Homo sapiens: one gene and its partner. The protein of the gene in region 1 interacts with the protein of each later gene in a biochemical or structural test. Each region holds a gene or a part of one and is shown on either strand. Other genes may lie near its edges.

Region 1 (3,815 bases):
ATTCCATTTACAATCGCATCTAAAAGAAAAAAATGCCTGGGAATAAATGTAAACAAGGAGGTGAGAGACTTGTATGCTTAAATTACAAAACGTTGCTCAATGCCAGGCTAACACCTGCAATCCCAGCACTGGCGACAGAGCAAGCCTCCGTCTCAAAAAAAAAAAGAACTACAGCAATCTTAACAAAAATAATACACAGCAGTCAGGACAGCACGTAAAGGAACAAGGCTTGTTCCCCCCTTCCTTTTTTTTTTTGAGATGGAGTCTTGCTCTGTCGCCAGGCTGCAGTGCAGTGGCTCGATCTCAGCTCACTGCAACCTCTGCCTCCCGGGTACAAGCTGGGACTACAGGCGCACGCCACCATGCCCAGCTAATTTTTGTATTTTTAGTAGAGATGGGGTTTCACCATGTTGGCCAAGATGGTCTCGATCTCTTGACCTTGTGATCTGACTTCCTCCACCTCCCAAAGTGCTGGGATTACAGGCGTCAGCCATTGAGCCCAGCCAGTTCCCCCTTTTCAAAATGAAGAAATAGATTCAAGGTACAATGCCAAAACATAATAGAAAAATAATTCCATTACCTTCTTTGCTTCCAACTATGTTATTAAAGTAGACAATCTTAAGATAATTAAACAACTTTACAAATTATTCTTCTATATGATCTTTTGCCTCTAACCTGCTCACTTTACAAGGGAACTGAAGCTCAAGCAGGTAAATGCCTTGTTTAAAGATACACAGCTAGGAAGGAGCACAGCCCATGTTATGTAAACAGGACAATATCTGATGCAAGCAGTACTTCTTTACATGACAGCAGATGTCACTATAAGCAAATACCTGAATTCACTTAAGCTGCCAAATATCAAGAACTGATGCAGGGCTGAAAACAGGAACAGTAAGACCCTAAGAGATGCCACATCATCTCTATCTTGCACAGTAAGATAGAGATGTAATTGTAATTGTCCAAAACTTAATATTTGTGGCCTACTTTTTCACTATGCAGTTCTAAATTTTTTTTTTAATTCAGATGGAGTCTCACTCTGTCGCCCATCTTGCACAGTCAAATGAATCTCCCTCCCCCTAAAATCCTCCAAAAACCCATCTGATCAGCTGTTCTCAACAAACCCATCTGATCAGCTCCAAATCTGTGGAGTCCCAACAAGGGTGAAGGCCGCGATTATACAGGACAATGAGGAAAAGTCTAGATACTGAACCATGAGTTCCCCAATCTTCTTCCCCTGGAACATAAGGGTAAGGAAATCTCTCAAAAGGCAGAACAAACAAAAGAGGAGAATAAGAGAAAAATTAGAGAAACTCCAGCTTTCAGGTAAACGTCATTAAAAAAAGGGTAAGAAATGGTCAAAGAAATAATACAAGAAATGCTACAGAACTGAAAGAAATGAGTTTCCCAATTGAAAGGACACTTCCAGAAAACCTTTAAGTTACCAAGAACAAGAATCTCATCGGACTCCTAACAACAGAACTTCTAGAAAATGGAGCAATGCTTTCAAAATTGCGAAAAAAAAATTATTTCAAACTCAGAATTCGATAACCAAATGATCAACTAAATTAAGTAAAGACATTTTAAAGACATACCATTAGTTTCAAGACCAGCCTGACCAACATGGTGAAATCCCATCTCTACTAAAAATAGAAAAAATTAGCCGGGCATGGTGGCACACACCTGTAATCCCACTACTCAGGAGGCTGAGGCAGGAGAATCGCTTGAACCCGGGAGGCGGAAGTTGCAGTGAGCTGAGACCATGCCACTGCACTCCAGCCTGGGCAACAGAGCAAGACTCTGTCCCAAAACAAAAACAAACAAACAAAAAAACCTCTCATCTACTTTTCCTCAAAGCAAGTGAGACTATGCTACACCAAAACAAAGAAAGTAAATGAAGAGGACATGAGATACAAGAAACAAAGGGTCTAACTCAGAAAAAAGATGAAAGGAATTCTCAAACTGATGATAAAGGGAAGTCCCAAGAGCACAGCTGTGTAGCAAAGAGGAAGAAAAACCAATCCTGGTTGGAGAAGTCAGTTAGTAAGGGTATTCCAGGTAGACAGACAATCAATCAATCAATCAATCAATCAATGTTTTAAGCTGCAATTGATGGGATTATGTGACCAGTTTGACCACATTTGAGGGTGTAAATTGCTGAGTTTAAGTAAGCAAGTAGTAACACAACATACAAGCAAACCAAAAAATAAAGCAATTATTCAGTCCAGGAAAAACAAAACCGCACAACAAGGGCAATTCAAATGCAAAAATATTTACCTTATATTTATATAAATGTTAAATATTCATTTAAACAAAAACTGCAATAACAGTACTGAAAGAATGAGGGGCAAACCAAAGTGTCTGAGGACAGTTTTGGAGGAGCATAATAACCAGTACAGAATGTCTAAAATGGGGCCCGGCGCGGTGGCTCACGCCTGTAACCCCGGCACTTTGGGAGGCTGAGGCGGGCGGATCATGAGGTCAGGAGATCGAGACTATCCTGGCTAACACGGTGAAACCCCGTCTCTACTAAAAATACTAAAAAATTAGCCGGGTGTGGTGGCGGGTGCCTGTAGTCCCAGCTACAGGCTGGGGCAGGAGAATGGTGTGAACCCGGGAGGCAGAGTTTGCAGTGAGCCGAGATCGCGCCACTGCACTCCAGCCTGGACGATAGAGCGAGTCTCCGTCTCAAAAAAAAAAAAAAGAAAAGAAAATGTCTAAAATGGGAGAAAGGAAATTAAAAATAACAAAAGTATATATGTGTGTTACTCAGAAGTATGAAGTATAGCTGTAAAGGGCAGAAAAAACAACTAACAGCTGTCAAAGGTGCCTGCCTGTAGTCCTAAGTACTCAGGAAACAGAGGTAGGTGGATCATTTACGCCCAAAAATTTGATGGCAGCCTGGGCAACACAGCAAGACCCTATTCTAAAAAACAAATAAATAAAAATAAGAGCTGTCAAGTAGACTTTGAGAAGTAGGAATCAGCTGCAGAATAAGAAATCAACTTGACAGAACATAGAAAAACTAAACAGAAGCCATCTGGAAAAAGAAAAACTAGAGAAAGAATTATATTTTTTTTTCTTTTTTTCTTTTTTGGAGACAGAGTCTCGCTCTGTCACACAGGCTGGAGTGCAGTGGTGCAATCTCTGCTCACCACAACCTCTGCCTCCAGGGTTCAAGCAATTCTCCTGTCTCAGCCTACCGAGTAGGTGGGACTACAGGCGCTGCCACCACGCCCGGCTCATTTTTGTATTTTTAATAGAGACGGATTTTCACCATATTGGTCAGGCTGGTCTCTCGGCCTCCCAAAGTGCTCAGATTACAGACGAAGAATATTTTTAAGGGCAAAAGCACATGTGAGGGAGTAGAAAAATGGCAAAACAAGAGAAGACTAACAAATGAAAGCACAATGAAAGACTAGAAAGATATGATATACAGACGCATCATCACACTCCAAAACTCCGACATTCTAGAAAGCATGGGCAGTTCACAGATGGCCAGCCTCTGCCAAACTGGGGGAGAATACTAACCTCTTCATATTCTTCACAGCCACTGCCTCTTCTCCCTCCATTCTTTACCTTCTATCCAAAGCACCCTGTTTTGTCATTTCACTCAAACCTAACTTTACAGAATAGCTTCACATGTTCCAAAGTTACTCACTAGTTAATCCATATTCCGCTGAAATCCCCAGGTTCTAATGTAAATGACTTTAAATTTGGGGGAAAAAAAAGACTCTAAGTGTAAGAGAGGTGTCATAATAACCAATCCTCAAAATTCTGCCACCACTCCACTTTATTTAATGGAGAAGTTATGTAGT
Region 2 (3,815 bases), on another chromosome or scaffold:
GTGTAGCTTTATAATATGAGATTTACCAGGATAGTATTCATATTTAACCCACTTGCCACAAAGAGAAACATTCTTACTTTGTTATAGAGAATGGAGGGATTTTCCTGGTGGTGGTTTAAGTAATTGTACTGAGTTTTCCACTTAAAAACAAAAACAAACAAACAAAAAAAACTTTGAAAAATAGTGAATATTGAATTTACTGGGAATGTATTAAAAAGTCCTGAGATAAATTCTTAAAGTATAATTTATATTTTTGGTAACAATATAGCATATTTTACATATTAAAATCCATGCACTTAAATAGGTCATATATTTATAAAAATTATTATATTAAAAACTAAAATCTGATTTCTTGGTCTTTATGATATAAATTTCAAAAAATCCTTAAAATTATTTTGGAATAAATCAAGATGAAATCACACAGTTGGGAATTTAGGCTTTTATGTCTGTGGATAAAGAATGTTTAGACTTATAGCACAGAAATACTCTGAAGTTAAAATGTATTTGGGAAATAGTTTGTCATATTCCCTTTCAAGAACAACGATGCTTTAAATATATATAAGTCAAGCAAAATCAATATTTAGGACTGTTAGAAATGGAAGTCTTTCTACAGCTATATCACTTTACTACAATAAAGTATTTTAGAACCATGAGACTGGCAAAGTTTTCTAAACAGCATAAATTTCTTTGCCTTTTGAACTAAATCAGACACACACTTCTAAGAATCATCTCCCTAAGACTCTCTCTTTCTCCCTCATTTTTAGTTGAGTCTTTAAAAAAGGAGCCTAAATTTAGCTTAAAAGAAGTAATCCACTGGTTTATTTTGGTGTTGGACATTATATTTTTCAGGTAGCAATGTGTGAGCAAACCTTGCAGCTTTCACAGGTGAGGAGCCCATAATGGTACCCAGACACTTTATCTCCACACACGGGACAAAGCTCTTCCAGATCTTCATCATAGGAGTAATTCACCATTTTAAATTGAGACACTGAAACAAAAAGAGAAATGTATACACATATTCAATTAATTTACATGTAGGTGTTAATCCTGCAACAAAAAGCATTTTGGTGATTGCTGGGCAAATATCACATGGTAAAATATAAAATAAAAACAATTTTTAGCAAGGTCTTACTGAACTATTTTTACAAGTAAAACATCTTTTGTCATCAATAAGCATGGACCTCATATAATTCCATGTGCCACAAACAATTCCAACTTCTTTTGTTAACATTTTAAACTGACCGCTTTTAAACACAAGTCTCATAACTCCACAAAGCAACAAATAGAGACATGAATTGCATAAGGTGACAGTTTAGAATTTCTTTTAAATCCCTATGAAGTTAAATTCCAAAATGTCACCTTCGCCTAAGGTAGAGAAACAAGCGCAGGCTTTATTCCCTCCCTCTTGAAGTGGTTTGCTGCAAGTGCACCTTGCTTACAGGGACAGCAGCACCAATTTGCAAACTCTGTCCGACAGAGAAACTGAAGCCCCAGAAACCCGCTTCTCAGCAGCAGCCCACTTTAACTAAACAGCCTGAGGCTCCCAACTTTCAGATCTGTTAGATAATCGAAACATTCAGTTCCGTATTGACAGTACTTTTCTATTCTGGATACTTTCATCTCCTTACGTTTGAAAATCTGTGAAAATAAAAAGAAGGAAAAAGAAAATAGAGGACGCCCGTACGGGGAAAAATACCAGAAGAGTAAAAGACACACAGAAGGGTTTTGGTTTCAAAGTATTGAAGCCCTGTAATGAACCTCACATGTTTCCGATCATCATAGCAAAATATAAACACCTCGAGATCGCCCTATTAAAGTTAAACAGAAATCAGGCCGCCACGACGCGCGGCGCGGCTCACTGCCGGGATCGGGTAACCGCCTTGCTCCGGACGCAGACCCACGAAGGCGTCTTCGCAGCTAAAAAGATGACAAACTATGCACAGGAAGGGCAGTGACCAGGAGACCCCAGGAAGTGCCTGATCCGGTATTTCCCGGAGACTCCACATCCACACAGGTCAAGTATGGGAGCGCGGGGCGCGGGTGGGCGGGCACCCGCAGGTCTGCGCAGCCGGGACCCTGCCCGCACTCCCCCGGGCACTCTTCGGCGAAACCCGTGGGCGCACCAGGCTCTCGCCTAGGCTCTACCTCCTGCTACCCAACGGCGCACAAACACGCAGCCGAGTTTGTTTTAAGTTAATCAGTGGCGTTTGCAGGGGGTGGGGCAGGTGGGGGATGGAAAGCCACGGCCGGGCAGAAGTTTCCTCTGATTTGTTTACCAAAAAGGAAAGAGAAATAGCCCCCACCCCATCGCCAAAGTCCTCCGCCACAGTATCGCCGCAGTGATGACTTGTTCTTTTGAAAATAAAGTTATTTTTTTTCTCTTTGGTTCCCGAGCTCTTCGGTCGGAAAGGGCCGTCAGGGGGGTCACTTGCAGCACTTTGCGGCTAAGGACTGCGCGCAGACCCGCGGAGTTGACGCGTCTCTTCCCGGGCCACAGAGCCCTAGGATGGCTCACAGGGGAGTGAGTTAGCCAGAGTTTGGGAACATTCCGAGAAAAGAGGCTCCAGAGAAGGCAGGAGCCTGCCTTCGTGAAATATTAATAAAGGGATGCTAGGCGAGGTCCTCCCAGCGGTGCCAGCCTGAATCCCAGCCCCAAGAGACCCCCACTAGGGTTTTAGGAACCTGGGGGTTTGGGAAGGGCCGAGGGTTCAGAAATTCCTTTATAGCCCCTAGACGTTGATAGCTCTCCTAACAATCGCGATGACAGTCTTGAGGCATGTTTTAGGAACAAGGCGAAAAGCGCACTTTCCCAACTGTGATCTTTTCTACCTCCCCTTCCCCCAACAAAGTAAACTCTAACTTTACACCAAAGGGGCACAGATAGGCAACTGCTTTCAGAGGGACTCCGTGCCTACCTCGGGGACCCGACATCGAAGAAAGACCGAGGCATGAGGTAGAGACTCTCTTGAAAAAACCCAAAGACAGAGGCTGAGTAGGGAGACGCTGCTGTGTGAGGCCTGGGCACCTTTCAGAGTTTCCCAGATGCTCTGGTGCAGCCGAAGTAGGCGTTTGGGGAGGCGAACTCATCGGGGCAAAGAAGCGCCCACACTCTTCCCCAGTTTCGGTCTAGGGAAAGAAGAACGGACGGCGGTGCCTTGGAAAGCTAGGGCCTCAGAGAGGCGCACAAAGTTCCCTCAAAGTTGGGCGCGCTGCTCTGTCCCGGGACCATGTAGTGGATCGTCTTTCTGGGCTCCTACGGAGGCGTCCCAGGTGGGAACCAGAGCAAGCAGGAGAATGGGGTCCCCATCCCCCAGGGGCTCCTCCCGACAGGCAGGCCTCTAGTCTCCGACGAAGCCTTGCCCCGGCGCTTCCCATGCTGATTTCGAACCATGGGCTGAGTGAGTGGCGACTTCTGAGCCCAGGCACCAAAGAAAAACTACTTCTCTGGTTTGGGGGCACTAGGTAGTGTGTCCAGAAGACCCCTCTCGAACTTTCCAAAGAAAACGTTACCAATAACATTTCTCTCTCCGCTCTCAAAATAAGTCTTTGGCTTCTCGCGCCAGAACAAGAAGCAGAAACTTTCCTTTTGGAGCCAAGAATCGTGCCGGCCTCACCCAGCGACCCCAAGGGTAGGCCCTCTCCGGAGCTGCCGGCTGAGGTCCCCCAACCCAGCCCCCCAGCGCCACTTCCCCGATGCCCCACACTAAACTGGAATTCCAGGTGCCCGGAAGAAAGGCTTCTTTGGACCAACCGGGTTCCCATAGCAGCCAGACCCACAGGTCAGCCTCCGGGGCTTCAGCTCTAGGGGACTCTCA

The links.
Region 2: the proteins of RANBP2 (region 1) and NR5A2 form a complex in vitro, tested with the Homo sapiens proteins (one study listed by BioGRID).

Annotation. Positions count from the first base shown.
Region 1 is NC_000002.12:108,722,170-108,725,984, reverse strand, and holds part of RANBP2 (E3 SUMO-protein ligase RanBP2), read right to left. Parts: intron 1-3,815. UniProt on the Homo sapiens protein: E3 SUMO-protein ligase which facilitates SUMO1 and SUMO2 conjugation by UBE2I. Involved in transport factor (Ran-GTP, karyopherin)-mediated protein import via the F-G repeat-containing domain which acts as a docking site for substrates.
Region 2 is NC_000001.11:200,040,947-200,044,761, reverse strand, and holds part of NR5A2 (nuclear receptor subfamily 5 group A member 2), read right to left. Parts: exon of another isoform or gene 3,088-3,815; coding exon of another isoform or gene 2,916-3,087; intron 2,172-2,915; exon of another isoform or gene 1,764-2,171; intron 989-1,763; coding exon 870-988; intron 1-869. UniProt on the Homo sapiens protein: Orphan nuclear receptor that binds DNA as a monomer to the 5'-TCAAGGCCA-3' sequence and controls expression of target genes: regulates key biological processes, such as early embryonic development, cholesterol and bile acid synthesis pathways, as well as liver and pancreas morphogenesis.